Regions from separate parts of the Homo sapiens genome. Here regions 1, 3 and 4 are each reported to be linked to region 2. The links are microRNA targets in miRTarBase. Many come from high-throughput screens and were not tested one by one. Region 2 holds a microRNA gene; each other region holds the end of a gene's coding sequence.
Evidence for each region. Region 2 holds the annotated microRNA hsa-miR-3179 (AGAAGGGGUGAAAUUUAAACGU, at 2,505-2,526, opposite strand). A microRNA usually pairs through its seed, bases 2 to 8, with sites in the 3' UTR of a target mRNA and lowers its output. Matches are read on the target gene's strand: a 7mer-m8 pairs with bases 2 to 8, a 7mer-A1 pairs with bases 2 to 7 and ends in A, and an 8mer does both.

Region 1 (3,244 bases), not on the chromosome of region 2:
GGGGACGGATCCTAGGTCTGGTGTTGGCGCCAAGAACCTGGCGAACTGCTGAGGGAGACTCGGAGCGTGCGTCAGTCATGCAGATTGCGTCTTAACTCTTGGCTGCTTCTTCGGGGTCCGGGGCGGCCAGGTTTAGTTTGACAGGAAAGCCTCGTTTCCTTATCCCAACCTCGGCTGCAGCTGTTTGGGACGTTCCTGGCTTTGTGCATTGGGTTCTGGTGCCTGATGGACACATTTTTCCAGTTACAGGCCGAATGTAAGGACCCCAGAGCCAAGCTGTCAGTGAGAACAGTGAAACAAATAACTGAGTCATTTCTTTTCTTTCTTTCTTTTTTTTTTTTGAGACGGAGTCTCGCTCTGTCGCCCAGGCTGGAGTGCAGTGGCTCGATCTCGGCTCGCTGCATGCTCCGTCTCCCGGGCTCACGCCATTCTCCTGCCTCAGCCTCCGGAGTAGCTGGGACTGCAGGCGCCCGCCACCACGCCCGGAGATTTTTTTGTATTTTTAGTGGAGACGGGGTTTCACCGTGTTAGCTAGGATGGTCTCGATCTCCTGACATCGTGATCCACCCGCCTCGGCCTCCCAAAGTGCTGGGATTACAGGCGTGACCCACCGCGCGCGGCCTTTTTTTTTTGAGACGGAGTCTCGCTTCGTCCGTCGCCCAGGCTGAAGTGCAGTGGCGTGACCTCGGTTCGCTGCAACCTCTGCCTCCCGGGTTCAAGTGATTGTCCTGCCTCAGCCTCCCCAGCAGCTGGGATTACAGGCGTCCGCCACCACGCTGGGCTAATTTTTGTATTTTTAGTAGAGATGGGGTTTTATTTTACCATGTTGGCCAGGCTGGTCTCGAACTCCTGACCTCAAGTGATTGGCCCGCCTCGGCCTCCCGAAGTGCTGGGATTACAGGCGTGAGCCACCGCGCCCGGCCTGAGTCATTTCTTTTTGGAGGCCTGCAAGAGGATGGAGCATGAGTTTGCAAATCCATTTAGTCACTTTATTTACCAAACAGTTGATCCCTGTCTCCACCCACCAATTGCCATGGCTGAAGGACTCTGAAGGGGCCCTTCAAAACTCAGTAAAAATAGAAAAGGACGCACTACTTATCCTTCCTGGCCCCATTCTTCGTTAGACTGGGACCGTCTTTAGATGTGGGCTTTTCATGGCCTAGAGGGAGGATTTGTCTTTTTTTCTCCCACCTGGGGACTTCTCTAGATCATCCTTATTTAGGGTATAGTGTCATCCTTATTTATAGTACACTGCCCAATTCTGTCCTATCCATATTGGTATTTACAGTTTCTCTTTTGAGAGTTGGAGTCTTGTCTCATTCCCGTTTACATTCTGTTTGGCTCAGTGCTTTCCTATAGCAGGCACACAAAAACCAGAAGTTAAGCAGATAACATATTTGAGTGAATTCGTTTATCTTCTTAGGCACCTAGGAGAATTATTACCTGAAATATAATGTTGGTAGTCAGTGGGCAAGCAGAAGAGTGGTTGTACCTGTCTCCCTAACTACTTTTCTAATTTTAAGTTGATTTTGCCCTTTCATTATCTGTTCAATGCGAAGTTCACCATCTAATGTCTAAATGCTACTCAAATCATTCTTCCTCTAAGTTGAATATTATTATAGAAAGATAAAATGAGGCCGGGCTCAGTGGCTCACGCCTGTAATCTCAGCACTTTGAGAGGCTAAGGCGGGCAGATCACCTGAGGTCAGGAGTTAGAGACCAGCCTGGCCAACATGGTGAAACCCCGTCTCTATGAAAAATACAAAAATTAACCAGGCCTGGTGGCAGGCGCCTGTAATCCCAGCTACCTGGGAGCCTGAGGTGGGAGGATCCCTTGACCCTGGTGGGTGGAGGTTGCAGTGAGCGGTGATCCCCGCCACTGCACTCCAGCCTGGGTGACAGAGTGGGACCCTGTCTCAAAAATAAAAAAGAAAAAAAAGATGTATAAGCTAAGTGTGAAAGCAAGGCTAATTTCTCAGATTTCTGTGGCTTTTCTTGTGAAGAGAGAAAATTAGACTCCAGTCCTGGGATTGAATGTCTTTATTAAATAAACGAGTAAATGGTAGCACAAATCACCATCAATATTTTTGGAAGGATTGGGGACAAGATGTCGAGTCAGAATATAATTGTTCATTTCAGGGTCTCAATGTAGCTGAAGAACTGTGCCCACTGATCAGTATTACGTATTGCAAATGCAGGAGGTAAGGCTAAAATAGGACTTATGCCGTTCAGAAGATTGAATTGAAACCTTAAAAACTATCATAATAGTAGGAATGCATGTTAAGATTTGATAACTTTCTTTAGCTAGAGTTTTCAACCCACAGTTAGGAGCAAAGTTGTAAAGTGAGTAGGTGTGAAGAAGGGACACTCTTTTGAGAAAAGAAATTAGCTACTTCTAAAATGATTCAATTATTTTCCCTATTTTCATTTTCCATAATATTTCCTCCTGTTTTATACCTCTAACTACCCTCCTGATTTCTCTGAGGAAAAAAAAGAATATAAGAGCAGGATCAAAAAAAAGCAAGAGACTTATCACTTTAGCCTTTTAGAAATACTGTTTCGTAGCAGATAACCTCAAATTAAAACTTCCGAGGTTTTCATCACCCCTTGAAGAAATATTTGTGTTTACTGCCCTGGAGCAGGAAATTAGGAAGGTTTAAGGAATCTCTGAAGCTGATTATAATAGAGTCAAAAATCAGTCTTCCATTTTGCACTACTATACTACTCTCAGGTGTCCCCAGTCAGGCCTAGTTTCTGGAGTTAATATTTGGGGGGGAAAGGAGGAATCCCTGTGACCCAGTACTCCATTGCTTGAACCATTTACTTTGTGACTTGAGGGCTTTTGAGAGAAATGGAGTAGACAGATAGATAAATAAATACATAGAACTCAACTCTGGCAGATTCATCAGCACCACCAACACAGTAGGGAGAGAACAAGATTAAAATGGGAAAGGAGTGGAAAGGAAGGGGCTTGAGAGGGAAGACAATGAGGGCAAGGTGATGGGAGAGAGAAGTCTTGGCCTTAGAGCAAGTCCAGTTCGAAGGAGTGGATGCTGGCAATGGGAGCTCTCCAGAAGTTGAAGGTGCTGTACTCAAGGAGGCCATCACCTTCAGGGTTTTTCTCCTGGTCTGCTGCAGTTGCTTGCCCGATCATTTTGCCAACGCTGCTGTCTTTGACCTTGTAGGTGGCTGTATCTGACAGACCCAGGCCTTCCAGCTCCGACAGATCCAGTTCTGGGATGGG
Region 2 (4,666 bases):
TCTATTACTTAATGAATTTCAGTAAGCATGTGAGGTGGGTGGTTATGGAAACCATTTTTGACCTATATATAAGATGGCAGTTTCGTCTGATTTCTCCTAAATAGAAGACGAGTGTGAAATGGTAACATGGTGTCCGTAGGAGTCATATGGATGGACCATGGCCAACCATATTATTAAGGAATATTCATGCATTCATCCATCCATCCATCCATCCATCCATCCATCCATCCATTCATTCACCAGTGAATGAGTAAAGCATTAGGTATTCACCACACTGTCCTCTCCTGGACTTCCCCCTACCTCACGGGCCACTTCCTCTCTGTCTCTTGGGCAGGGCCCTCCTCGCCCATCCTCTGAAGGTTGCACTGTCCCAGGGCTTGGCCCCCAGCCCTCTCCTTTTCTCAGTCTTCATAAGGATACCTATTATTCAATCCCGTGGCCTCATCTGTCATCCAAAAACACTCCCAGCTCACCACGTCTCATCTCCAGCCGTGATTTCTCACCCAGGCTGCAGACTCGGGTGTCTGATAAGCATCTCAAACTCACGATGGCCAAAACAGAAGTCTCAATTTACCTACACATTTCAGTGGTTCAGCTAGAAACAAACGATTCACTTATCGTTGATTCCTCCCTTCCCTCACCTCCTGTATTAAATACATCAGCAAGACCTTTCTGCTCTATCTCTGAAGCATAGCCCCAAGCTCACCACTTCCTGCCACTGTTACTTCCATCACCCCAATCCAAGCCATTGCTGTCTTTTGCCTAAACCAACACAACGTCCTCTTTGCTTCTCTCCCTAAATTCATTCTTGCTTCCCAATAATCCAATCTCCTCAAAATTTAAAGAAGCAATTGTTTAAAAACATACATCAGATCACTCCCCTTTCCCTACTTAAACCCTCCAATGCCTTCTGTTGCCATTAGAATAAAATCTAAACTCCTTTCCAGGGCACCCACATGACCCGGTCCCTGCCATCGTTCTCATCTCTTCCTCTCAATCACTTGACTCTGGCCACCCTGGCCTCTTTGCTATTCCTGAAACTCAGGGAGCTCATTTCCTCCTGGGGGCCTTTGCAATTATGGTCCCCTCTGCCTGGGCAGCTCTTCCCCCAGATCTTTGCATAACTGGCCCTTCCCCTCCTCAGGTCTCAGCTCAGATGCTGCCTCCTCAGAGAGACCTTCCATGATACCAATCATCCTCTGTCACATTGCCTTGTTCTGCTTCTTTTCTTCGTAACGCCTGGCATTATCCAACAACTTCTAATGTGTGTGTTTACCTTTCGTCCTCCATCAGCACTGTGCTCCTAAGAGCTGAGGCTCGGTCTCTCTCACACCACTAAACCCCCAGTATGCCAAGCAGCACCCAGCACAGGGGAGATGCTCAGTTAATACTTGTTGAATGAATTAATGATGCTCCCCCTAAAACTAAACTTTACAAAGCACCCACTAGACAACAGGTTAGAAAACATTTTCTAGGCCAGGCGCAGTGGCTCACACCTGTAATCCCAGCACTTTGGGAGGCTGAGGCAGGCAGATCATCTGAGGTCGGGGTTTGAGACCAGCCTGGCCAACATGGTAAAGCCCTGTTTCTACTAAAAATGCAAAAATTAGCCAGGCTTGGTGGCAGGCGCCTATAATCCCAGCTACTAGGGAGGCTGAGGCACGATAATCATTTGAACCCAAGAGGCGGAGGTTGCAGTGAGCTGAGATCACACCACTGCACTCCAGCCTGGGTGACAGAGAAAGACCCCATCTCAAAAACAACAACAACAACAACAAAATGTCTTCTGTAAAGACCCAGATAGCAAGTATTTTAGGCTTTTTAGGCTACCTGGTCTTTGCCACAACTACTTACATCTGGCACTGTCAGGCAAAAGCAGCCATAATCTGCAAATGAATGGGCATGGCTGTGTGCTCATAACACTTTATTTATAAAACAAGAACAGTGGGCCATAGTTTGCTAACCCCTGCACTAGCCCAGTCTAAGTCTTGAATATCATCTGTGTAATTAATTCACAGTGAGGAGTTCTCCACTGTAATAATTACTCATTCCATGAATGCATGCCACTCAGGTGAGGCGTTCTTGAAACTCTGAGAGGCAAGAAGCAAAATGTTCTTTCTCCATACCCAGGCACACTCCAGTCTGTGAAAAGGAAGCAAGAGAGGCAGGCTGCAAGTTTGATCACTGGGTGGCTGCTAGCCACCTCTCCCCCTCAGCTCCAAGAGCAGAAACAGGATGAAAACGCAGCAGCTGCCGGCTTCTGTCCTCTTGCCAGCTGCCTCTCTTGCAAGACTAGACAGGGAGGGGCAGCCGCCAGTCTCCGGAGGCACAGACTGCACAGAATTGAGGATCACTTGTTCCAATGCATTCATCTTATCTTACAAAATCTTCAAATTCCAAAAAGCACACGTAAGAAGGGCTGCTGTTTCATTCACACAGTGAAATATTGTGCATCTGAAAGAATATGTAGATGGGTGGCATCTTCAACAACCCCAGGATCACAGACGTTTAAATTTCACCCCTTCTACTGCTGTAAGGCACAGCAGAAGGAGTGTAATTTAAACGTCTGTGATCCTGGCTGGGCGTGGTGACTCTTGCCTGTAATCCCAACACTTAGGGAGCCCAAGGTGGGAGGATTGCTTGAGCTCAGGAGTTCAAGACCAGCCTGGGCAACCTAGTGAGAGCTCATCTCTACAAAGATTTTTTTTAAAAAAATTAGCCAGGTGTGGTGGTGCACTCCTGTAGTCCCAGCTACTCAGCAGGCTGAGGCACGATGATCCCTTGACCCTGGGAGATCAAGGCTGCAGTGAGCTGTGATGGTGCCATTGTACTCCAGCCTGGGGAACAGAACAAGAACCCATCTAAAAAAAAAAAAAGAAAGAAAAGTTCATATTCCAACCAAGATCTCACCATTGCATCATCAAGCATAAACACCTGCCCCCACTGAAAAAGTACAGAGGAAGGCAGTCATATAATATCTTCCCTCCTGACCTCACCAAGTTCCAGGGCAGGAAGAGTCTCGCCACCCCAGCACACAGTAGGCCCACTGGAAAATGAGTGCTCCCTTCTCTAGGCATTTCATTGTCATGGTCATAAAGTCAGGTTCATTTTTCTAATGAAAGAGAAAGCCAAAAATGGAGGCTGATTTTTTTCTTTTTTCTTTTTTTTTTTTTTTAGTCTCACTCTGTCGCCAGGCTAGAGTGCAATGGTGCGATCTCGGCTCACTGCAACCTCCGACTCCCTGGATCAAGTGATTCTCCTGTCAGCCTATCGAGTGGCTGGGACTACAGGCGCCCACCACCACACCTAGCTAATTTTTGTAGTTTTAGTAGAGACGGGGTTTCACCATATTGGCCAGGATGGTCTCGATCTCTTGACCTCATGATCTGCCCATCTCAACCTCCCAAAGTGCTGGGATTACAGGCATGAGCCACCACACCGGGCCTGGAGGGTGATTTTGACCAGGCCTTCTCAAGTTTTGGAAGGAAGTGGAGCTGACTTCTCTTCTGTTGCTTTTGCCCACCCAGGATCACTTATTCCTCTGGGTAATACAGCACCCCAGGCACAGGGGCCGCCTGTCACATGAGCGTGGGCATGGCTCATGTGCGGCCAGGCCCCAGTGATTCTGCAAAGGTTGCCCATAAGTCCTTCCCCCGCCCCAGGACTGGCATATTGATGTGGTGGGATGGAAGCTGTCCTTCTGCTGGGTCTGCAGATGGGGGCAATGTAAAGCCTGACATTGCCGGATGATGTCAGAAGCGGAACCCATAGGCAAAAGCCAGCTTTCCAGCACTCCACTCTCAGTTTCCTGCCATCTCCACTTCTGTGGATGTGTGCCCGGCATCTGCCTCTGCCCCTGCCTCTGAGAGCAGTGACTGAGCAAACAGTCCTGGACCTGGTTGAAAGGATGGGCCTGTCTGTTTCTAGCAGAGTGGTCTTTCAGAAAGCTGATTCCTGAAAGTTGGCATCAAGGGAAGCAGAGCCAGGAGGTGGAAATTGAGACTGGGTCCCGCTATGCATGAAGCCAGAGACTCTTGGATTTCTCCGTTACTTGACCAGAGGAATGCCCCATTTTGCTCAAGCTAGTTGGAGTTGGATTTCTGTTACTTGAAACCAAGAGAGCCTTAACTAATACACAACTAGAAATGCATCCATGGTCACTGCCCATTCATGTGACAGACATTTATTGAGCACTATTCCAGTTACCTAATGTTGCATGAGTTACCCCAAAACTTAGAGGCTTAATTCAGTCGTATAAGATATTCACAGATCCCGTGGGTCAAGAATTTGGGAAGACACTGTAGGTTGAACTTTGTTCTCTGCTTTGTCTTTCTTGGAAAGAGAGGACACAGCTTGAAGTCATTACTGATTTGGGACTGTATGTAATGCATATCTGTGCTTCATTGTCACTGTGTTTTTAAGTTTTCTAAACTTAAAACAGCTCATTTTCGGGGGACATAAAGAACCTGGGAAGAGCTCAGCTGGGCAGCACTGACCTGGGGTCTCTTGAGTGGTGGAAGTCAGATGTCATCTGCAGTTGCACTCACCAGAAGGCTTGACCGGGGCGGGGAAATTCGCTTCCAAGCTGGCTCACTCACGTGGTGGCAAGCTGTACATGCTGGGGGCCAGGGGCCTCACCCCTCCCCACGAGGCTGCCTGAGCACCC
Region 3 (4,666 bases), not on the chromosome of region 2:
CAAAACCACAAAACCACTGCCGCTGCCTCCCTGTGGAGCCCTGCTGGTCCGCAGGACACAGAGTTGGGGCGTGCGTAGGGCTGCCACCCTGCTCCATACCCTCCGCCAGCTCCATGTCCCCCACCAGCCCAGGACCAGAGTCGTGGGCAAGAATAGAATAAACAGCTTTAATTCCAGACGAGGACATCTCGTGAAGGAGATTGTTTACGTCGGATATAAATACACACACCATTTCACGTCACTTGGGCGTTTTGAAAATCTGGAAAGGGAGATCATGGGGAGGGGGCGCAAAGATCTCACGCCCTGTCCCCGTGAGTGTGGAGAGGGGGCACGCACAGATCTCACCTCTGCCCCTGTGGGACCAAGGACAGTCTTGGTCTGACTTTTGAAGCTCCTGGGCCTCGGTGCCCACAGAGGAGGCTGAAGTGGGAAGGAGCCGGCCGTCAGGAGAAGGAAGCAAGCAGCCGGGGGAGCTGTGGGGCCCAGTCCAGGGCATTGGGGTGACCCCCTTCCCCAGCCCCCTGCCCTCCAGCTGTAAGGCTGAGGAGAGGAGAAAGAGGAGTGGGGTGTGGAGAAACTGAGGCTTGCCTATCAAGGGTTCTGCATCGGGGGCTGGCAGGCAGTTCTCAGAGGTCTGAGGGTGGGCCCCAAGCCTGTGTCCCTGGCCACAGAAGACAGGCGGCCTGTCCTCTCCAGCATGAGTGGTAGTGGACGCACTTGCCGCTTCGGACAGGATGTCCTTCCCCTCCCGGCCTCTTACAGTCTGAGAAGCCTCTGAGGCCCGAGGAACCCAAGTTGAATGATTGGATTTCAGATGTGGGGACAAGGAGGGGACCTGGCTCACCTGCCTTAGAGACCCCTCCTCCTGAAGAAAGGGATTGTTCCAGAAAAATTGCAAGCCCTGCCTCTTCAAGCACAGCAATCCTCAAGTGTCAGCCATTCACTCTTTAGCGTGAATTAGAGTGACAACCAGGAATGGAGCCAGGCTGGGGGTCATTGATGGGGAGGCCAAAGGCCCGAGGGGCACGTAACACCGGTGGAGGAGGGGCAGGGAAGACTGGCGGGGAAGGGGCCGGGAAGACTGGTAGGGGAGGGGAGGGGCTGGGAAGCTGCATGGAAGGCCCTTCACTGGCCCCAGCGAGGCGGGCGCTTGGCCTTACCTTTGCCCAGGCCATTCCCCCTCATCTTAGCACTCCTTCCCGCTGGCCCCTGCCTCCTTGCAGCCCTGGGCTGGAGAGGTCTTCACAGTACAGTGCGGGACCAAGGGCAGAGGGGTGTCATACTCTAGGCCACGTGCAGAGCTTGCTTGAGGGGCGGGAGTGGGAGCCGGCAGGTAGTCTCTGGGGCTTGGGGCGCCCCCTAAGATGGAGCAAGAGGATCCACAGCTCCTGGAGGAATGGAGTCCAGAGTCCCTGGCCCTGGATGACTTGTGAGCGTGGGTGGAGGGGTCCCAGGTAAGCAAGGCCATTCAGGGACTGCTGGGCCACATGAGCCTGGAAGAAGCTCATGGCTTGGGCTGGGCAGGACACCTGAGCCCTGACCCCTCACTCCTCAGCTCTAGGCATGTGACCACGTGGGTGCCAGCTCGCAGCCCTGGGAATGATGGCTCGCTGGCTGTTGGTGCCTGCTTGCCTGAAAGTCGCCGTGAATGCTGCACCTGTGGTCAGCGGGGTTTTTCTGCATGCACAGCCCTGTCCCCCAGCCACGTCCTTTCCTGAACGCTGGGCCCCTCTGCCTTGTGGAACCCTGCATCCCTGGTAAGCCACGGCCCCTCTCTGAGCAGCACCCGAGAGCTGGGGGCTGGGGGAAGGTTCCAGAATTGTGCCTGGTGCCTGGTAAGTATCAAGAATGCTGGCGGCCATGGTGATACCCACTGCTTCTCGGGCATCCGGACCCAGGGAGGAAGTAACCCTGGCAGCACTCCCAGTTCCACCACCTTGCGGGGCACGCCTCTGACTCCTCTGGGCCGGTGCCCCCCACCCCAGCTGCTCCACATGGCCACAGCTGGGGTTGGTGAGGACAATACTGGCCTTGGATGACTCAGGCACTCACTCTATGACCTTGGCAAGCCCCTTTCTCCCTCTGAGCCTCAGTTTCTTCATTTGTAACATGGGGATATAAAGTCCAGGACCCTAAACTGGGGTCAGGAGACTCTGCCTCGAGCTGAATCGGGGAGCCCCGGCCTTTTCCTCCTCCTCCCCCTCCTGCTCCCAGCCACACAGGCCACGGTCACCCTGAGTGTGTAGGACTTCTCTGTAGCCAAAGGCCTGGCCTGAGGACCTGAGCCCATCTCGCCTGCTTCAGTGGCTATGGCCAGGTCTGATGGCAGGGCCTCAGAGCCGGAAGTGCCAGGGATGCCCCACACTCCTCTTCCTCACCACAGGCTCCCTTCCCCATTACCAGTCCTGAAAGGGCTGGGAGCTTGGACGCTCGGCAGAAGGCACGTGGGAGGAAATCCTGGAGTCCAGCTCTGAGGAGATGATCAGAGGCCCCAGCCAGAGAAAAGCTCCCTCCCTAGTGAAGGCATGGGGACTCATAGTGAGCTGGGCCAGAGCAGCTGGTCACGTCCTCTCTGCCCCCGGGGGGAGGAAAATGGCTGTTTGCATGGGGAGATGGTGGCCACAACCCGGCATGCCTGGGTTCACTGCTGCGTGACTTTGTTCTTGGTTTTCTTATCCATAGGATGGGGCTGTGAACACTGCCTCTACCTGGGGCAGCAGGTGAGCCATTCTGAGGCCATTCCTAGAGTGGGGGCTTTGGGATGATCGTGCACTCTCTGTGGAAGGAGGTGCAAGGGCACTGGAGGAGGTGGGGCTGGTTTTCATTCTGACCCTGCCATTTCCCAGCTGTGGCCCCTGTGTGTGTCACTTGACCCCTCCAGCACCAAGAAATGGATGAAAAGTAGCGTCTCCTTTGTGGGTTGTTGTGGGTTCAAGTGTCAACCTAGATATCACAGTGCTTGCTCACAGCAGAGCGGCCTGTGGGTGTCTGCCGTTTTATCGTGCAATTCACGGAGGCCTCAGGTGGGGGGGTCTTGCAGAGACATGCACCCCCCCCCACCTCCATTAATGCAACACGAATGCTCCCTGGCCTTTTCTTTCTGTCCTTGTCCTTCCTCCTGTGTGTGTGTTGGAGGGAGCATTGTTGTTGTTAGCTCTCTCGGGAATTCAGGTTGTTTCTTAACTCTCTTGGGAATTCCCAGCACCTAAATAATCTTTGTCCTTTTTTCTTTTTTCTTTTTCATCTCATCCTTCTAATCAATGGAATCCACTGTGCCCTTTTTTCTGAGGAACTCCTTCTGGAGACAAACTGGCCAAAGTGAGGAGCAGCTCCCGGCTACCCCTGTGAGTTTTCAGTGGACGTGCTATACCCCAGGAACAGCAAATCACCGGCATTCAGGCCACCACATCCCATCGGAGCCAGTGGCAGACATTGCTAATCAACCACAGCACAGTGGCCTTAGACGCTCAATGCGGTGCTCTGGGTAGCCATCACCAATCAATCGAGATGGAACCGATTGCCACCCCTGGCATGGTGGGTGTCCACGCTGGCATGCCCAGATGAGTCCTGACCTTCGGCCCCTGGCAGAGCCCTGCTGACTAAGCCTCGGGCCCATTAGCCAGGGCCTGGGTGAGGGCGTGAGGGCCGGCACTGAGGATGTGATGACGGCCTGAGCCCTTGGAGCTCCTGTGCATGCTGACCACGTCACCGCTGCTGGGCTCACGCTCTCCGTGCTGGCCGAAGAGGCCTCGGACGGTGGCCTGGAAGCCACTGGTGACGAAGCAGTAGACGATGGGGTCCATGCAGCTGTTGAGGCTGCTGAGGGTCACGGCCACGTGGTAGACCACGAGGCTCGTGTGGTGTGGCATGTCGGGCCACAGCGCCACGGCCACTTGGCGGGCGTGGAAGGGCGTGAAGCAGACGAGAAAGATGATGAGCACCGTGAGCAGGAGCTGCATGGCCCGCACGCGGCGCTGGCGACCCTGGTGGAGCAGACCCGGCCGCGACAGTGCACACATGATGCGGCCGGTAAACACGCTGATGACCAGCAGGGGCAGCAGGAACTCCAGGACAGTCAGCGCAAAGACACGGCAGCAGGGCCGGCTGCCTGTCACGCCCAGCACCGACAGGGTGACGGCACCGGCGGCCAGCCACACGAAGGCGCACACGGCCCTGGCACAGGCAGGCTGGCGGCAGCGGCGGGAGCCTTCGGGCCGCACGATGGCCAGGTAGCGGTCCACGCAGATGCAGGTGAGGAAGAGGATGGAGCAGTGCATGTTGAGGAAGTAACCGAGGACGTGCGGGAAGGCACAGCGCAGGCAGCCCCTGGCGCCGTAGTACACAGCGAAGCGCGTGGGCAGGGACAGCCCTACCAGTAGATCGGTCACCACCAGGTTGATGGTGTAGATGACTGAGGGTGTCTTGGCCCGGGTGCGGCAGCAGAAGACGTACAGCGCCAGCCCGTTGAGCACCAGCCCTGCCAGGAAGATGGCTCCGTGCACCGCCATCAGCGCCAGCCACAGGCCTGGGAAGGTGCCATGCAGCTCCTCGTCCAGCCGGGCAAACAGGTGGAACAGGGGCACCTCCAGCCCGCTGGCATTGGTCCGCACTGTTGTCACTGCGGTGGCATTGGGGACTGCCCCGGCCGAGGGCCCCGCTGGAGACA
Region 4 (4,666 bases), not on the chromosome of region 2:
TCTGGGTTAGCTCTCAAGGGCCAGTTTCTGGATTTCTCCACAATGCAAGCTACAGAGCTGGGGAAGTTGCCGGCTGGAGGAGTTCTCTACCCTCCACCTTCCTTCCTCTACTCTCCGGCTTTCTGCCCCAGTCCTTTGCCTGACACATCGTTGCTTCAGGTAAGAGGGGGGCAGGTATTAGATATTGGGGGATAGGGTAGGGAGAATGATTTTGTGGGGGTTGATATATTTCTCCCTGTTTCCCGACAGGTACGCCAGGATCTGCCATCCCCTTCGGATTTTTATTCTACTCCTCTGCAGCCTGGTGGCCAAAGTGGCTTTCTCCCTTCAGGGGCTCCTGCCCAGCAGGTATATTGTATCTTCACACTTCCCCTTCATTTGATTTCTCTGTCCAGTTGCTGGCTTTGATTTTCCCTGGTTTTCTGACATTCCTCCCTGCCCCCAACATGCACACCCAAATTTCTTGTTACAGATGCTTCTACCCATGGTAGACTCACAGCTGCCTGTGGTGAACTTTGGCTCCCTGCCGCCAGCACCACCTCCTGCCCCACCTCCCCTTTCTCTGTTACCTGTGGGCCCTGCTCTGCAGCCCCCCAGCCTGGCTGTGCGGCCCCCACCTGCTCCTGCTACTCGGGTGCTGCCTTCACCTGCCAGGCCCTTCCCCGCTAGCTTGGGGCGAGCAGAGGTAAGGTACAGGAACTGAGGGGCTAGGGAGCGCCAAGACTTGGGAGTAGGGATTCTGTATTTCAAGGTAGGCAGCTCATGATTTTTTTCCCCTCAGCTGCATCCAGTGGAACTAAAGCCGTTCCAGGATTATCAAAAACTGAGCAGCAACCTTGGGGGACCTGGATCATCACGGACTCCCCCAACTGGAAGGTGAAACGGAATAGGGATGTGGACTTTCCAAGTGCTTCCTTACTTTGGAACCAGGGTCTGGATCCTAGGCTTGCCTTAGACGCCCTTCTTCCCTTAGGTCCTTCTCTGGCCTCAATTCCCGTCTCAAGGCCACGCCTTCCACCTACAGTGGAGTCTTCCGCACCCAGCGCGTCGACCTTTACCAGCAGGTGAAGGAGAAACCCTTGTGGCCCCAACTCTAAATTCGAGTTGCCACCTGATTTCCTGTCCTTCCGTCTCATCGCTGACCTCTCACTGTGACTCACTGTTTAACACATGCCTGTCCCCTAGGCCTCCCCACCAGATGCCCTGCGCTGGATACCTAAGCCTTGGGAGCGGACAGGGCCGCCACCTCGAGAAGGGCCCTCCCGACGGGCAGAGGAGCCTGGGTCCCGAGGGGACAAGGAGCCTGGGTTGCCCCCACCCCGCTGAGGGAGTTCCTCTTGCCCCCTACCCCCGGGGCTTGTATATAGATTATAAATATATAAGGGGGAAAGGGGTGGGCGGGGAGGGGTTCTGGGGCTGGGGCCTCACTTCCCCTCCTCCCCCTTCCCCTGGTCCCCTGTCCCTGGGGCTGTTTGTTAAAAAAGAGTAATAAAAGGATTTAAAAAAAAAAACTTCTACAATGATTTGGGGGATGAGTTGTTTGCATTGTCTTAAAGCATGGTGCTGAGTGATCTGTAGTTTCAGTCAGGGAAATATTCATTACTTATTCCAGTGAGCTGTTGAAACTAAAAACATGACCATCGTATTGGATCTTTAAATTTTTGTGAGTCTGGAATTTGGGCTGAGCTCAGCTGGATAAATCTGCTTTTTTGTGCCAGTGAGCGAGGTCAACTGGTTATCAGTCTGCAGCTGACACCTGGGCTGGTCCCAATATGGCTTCCTTTGCATATCTAGGGCCTTGGTGGGACATCTGTAACATTACTGGGTTATCAACCAGTGTCTTCACATGGACTCTCCAGCAGGCCTGTTAAATGTCCGTGAGCTCATGTTCCAAGAGGTCTAGCTGGAATTTTCTAAGCTTATGCCATGCTTAGTTGATAAGAGCACTAAACTAGCCAAGGTAGGGGATGGGGGGGTTTAGAAGGGACTTCAACTGCATCTCAAAGGGACTAGCAAAGAATTTGCAGCCATGGGACTTCAGTTCTTTATGATGAACTAAGGGGAAATCTCTGTTAAGGCCTCAATGTTGGAGCACACTTAAGGGGCTCTTTGAATTGGATAGACCAATTCCAGCATTGTCAAACTAAGTGGGATTTCACATGGTAACGCTGCATGCTAGTTATGCTAAAGACTATACTTAGGTCTGCAGCTGCTCAGAAACTTTTTTTGATGGGTAATTTGAGAGCTCTATGCTAGTGTGCACCTGGAATATGCTCCCAACTCAAAATACAGGTTTTTTATTTATATATAAAGTGCTTTCGCACAAAAAATACAAACATCAGGCTGGGCGCGGTGGCCCACGCCTGTAATTCCAGCACTTTGGGAGGCCAAGGCGGGTGGATCACAAGGTCAGGAGTTCGAGACCAGCCTGGCCAATATGGTGAAACCCTGTCTCTACTAAAAATACAAAAATTAGCCGGGCGTCGTGGCGGACGCCTGTAGTCCCAGCTACTCAGGAGGCTGAGGCATGAGTGAGAATCACTTGAACCCGGGAGGTGGAGGTTGTAGTGAGCCGAGCTCGAGATCGGGCCACTGCACTCCAGCCTGGGAGACAGCAATACTCTGTCTCAAAAAAAAAAAAAAACAAACATCAAAACTGGCTTGTACAATTTAGCGTGCTGAGTAGAACACAACAGTGTTCCAAGGAAGTATTAATTTAAAAAAGTTCACACAAGATTAAGGGACACACTACCTAATGGAGACAATGTAGAGAGAAAGCAGCCAGAAAAATCCGACTTTTATTTCTTAAATACTGTGAAGGAAGAGGGGGGAAACGGTCCCCTGATGAGGAAGGGCCATAGAGCAAAGAGCTAAGGATCATCAGCAAAGGCCCGCTGGGCATTGGGGAAGCGCTGGGGACTGTAGTTGGGGTCTTCCTGCAGTCGTTTTTGTATATCAGACCGGAGCTAAAGAGAAAAAGTAAGCAGGTTGGAGAAACGCTGGCCAAGTCCCCATGATCCCAGCAAGCACACAAGGCCATCCCTCAGAAGCTAACATTTCCCCCCCCAAGCACACTGTCAAATAGCCCGGGGTGGCACTGTCAAGCCTTCCCAGATGCCAAAGGGGAAAACAAATGGTAGCACCAGGCTGACCAGTTCATCGCTGAAGGGATCCAGGGAAGAGGGACCCTAGCCCAACCCCTCCCACTAGACCATCCCTATTCTGCTTCAAGGTGGCACCTGCTGCCTGTAGCTCTCCTGAACCTCTGGTGCCTCCAGGTCCCGGCTCAGGCTCTCGGGGCTCGTCAGGGGCCGAGCTCCGGCTGCCTTAGCTGCCCGGCTCACAGCCTCTGAGAGAAGCAGCTGGGGGCCCTCACCCTGCATCGTCTGGGGGACAGGGGGTTGGGAGGGAAAAGAGGATCAACGTCAGATCCAGTGCCACCATCCGGCTCACCCTTTCCATGAGTCAACCACTCCACTGAGTCTCCATGCTAGTGGAGAGAGGGGAAATTAAGAGTCCAGGATGTGGTTTTTACAGCAGAAATGCCTTCCTAATTCTCTTTGGCACTAGCCAAAACTAAAGTGAATGTGCTTGAACGTGCTCTTCAAAACGAAAGGCAGAAGGGGTCAAGCCATCCGGGATTCAGAGCTAGGTAATCCACAAGAGGAAACCCACCTTAAAGGAAAATGGGATCTAAGCACATGGGGATTAGGCAGCTGAGCAACTAATACAGGACTGCTAGCAAACAGACTAAGGTCAAGTCCTGTATGGTTATGCAACAACCAAGAGCAAGTCTGAATCCCAGAAAAAGTTTCCTCATTAAACGAGGGGAGGGGAGACTGAATAACAAGAGCTCCCACCATCTCTACATAGTTTGATTCCAGGCATGACGGGGAAACCTGGATAGAGAGAGAGGCTTAGGGAAGAGGAAAACCAACCTTGCGTCTCTTGGCAGGCATACCACTGAGGTAGGCATCACTCAGAGGGGGCTGCGGTTTCACCTTCCGCTGGCTCTGAATGTCCTGCTGGATAATAGGGACCCATTCCTGGGGAGGAAAAGAGAAAATAGTAATGTCCTTGACTTTCAGCTGCCATGACCCACTGGATTACTTCCTGACACTTACTGGGGGGACTGCAGCTGCCCAAGGTTCTGTCTCAGCTGAAGCTCCATCCTGTTCATCCCGGGAGCCCCCCTCAGGAGCAGGAGGTGGACCTCGGGACATGGCCTCTTCTGCTGTTGTTCCAGGGGCTGGGGAAGCATTCTCCCGCTGGGTGTCAGATGGCGGGAAGAGCCAGGCTTCAGAATTTTTAGCCTCCAAACCTTTCTCCCCCAGCCCTCCACTCCACATTATCTGGCCCCTCAACCTCCCCCTCTCTAGAGTACCTGAGGCTCAGGGGAAGCTCTTTCTGCTCCCTGAACTTCCATTGGCTCCTCAGGAAGTGGCTGTGAAATTAAAGAACACCATACTTCCTCTCAGATCTCTCCAGTTCTCTCAAGTACCCTGACCCCATCGCCCAACAGGTCCCTTACCTGGGGGGGATCACCAACCCTGCGAACGTATCTGAGAATGGCATCAGGGCCTACAGGCATGTGCTCCAGTACCACCTGAAGCCTCAGTCCCATCATAGTGGTCAGCCAGCTCACCAAGGAGGGATTCACCCCACG

Region 1: miRTarBase lists MLLT11 as a target of hsa-miR-3179. Seed matches in the 3' UTR shown: 7mer-m8 at 2,964-2,970 and 8mer at 1,049-1,056.
Region 3: the mRNA of GPR20 is a reported target of hsa-miR-3179. The part of its 3' UTR that is shown has no 7-base or 8-base seed match.
Region 4: the mRNA of PRRC2A is a reported target of hsa-miR-3179. Seed matches in the 3' UTR shown: 7mer-m8 at 1,440-1,446.

Annotation. Positions count from the first base shown.
Region 1 is chr1:151,067,276-151,070,519 of GRCh38, reverse strand. MLLT11 (MLLT11 transcription factor 7 cofactor) reads right to left here. Exons shown (of 2, transcript NM_006818.4): 2 at 976-3,244. The coding sequence ends at 3,023. Among named protein-coding and RNA genes, the nearest start is that of GABPB2, 1.9 kb to the left of the region's middle. RefSeq lists an enhancer at 1-244.
Region 2 is chr16:18,409,401-18,414,066 of GRCh38, forward strand. It overlaps MIR3179-3 (microRNA 3179-3), which reads right to left and starts at 2,577; the gene lies at 2,494-2,577. The region is part of intron 2 of LOC112268172 (a long non-coding RNA gene); the gene reads left to right.
Region 3 is chr8:141,353,248-141,357,913 of GRCh38, forward strand. GPR20 (G protein-coupled receptor 20) reads right to left here. Exons shown (of 2, transcript NM_005293.3): 2 at 3,223-4,666. The coding sequence ends at 3,600. Among named protein-coding and RNA genes, the nearest start is that of GPR20, 12 kb to the right of the region's middle. RefSeq lists enhancers at 3,236-3,857, 3,858-4,479.
Region 4 is chr6:31,636,261-31,640,926 of GRCh38, forward strand. It overlaps PRRC2A (proline rich coiled-coil 2A), which reads left to right. Exons shown (of 31, transcript NM_004638.4): 26 at 1-159; 27 at 250-348; 28 at 473-685; 29 at 782-876; 30 at 974-1,064; 31 at 1,186-1,511. The coding sequence ends at 1,326. BAG6 (BAG cochaperone 6) reads right to left here. Exons shown (of 26, transcript NM_001387994.1): 21 at 4,532-4,666; 22 at 4,385-4,444; 23 at 4,125-4,268; 24 at 3,939-4,046; 25 at 3,240-3,386; 26 at 2,768-2,966. The coding sequence ends at 2,871. Among named protein-coding and RNA genes, the nearest start is that of MIR6832, 4.8 kb to the left of the region's middle.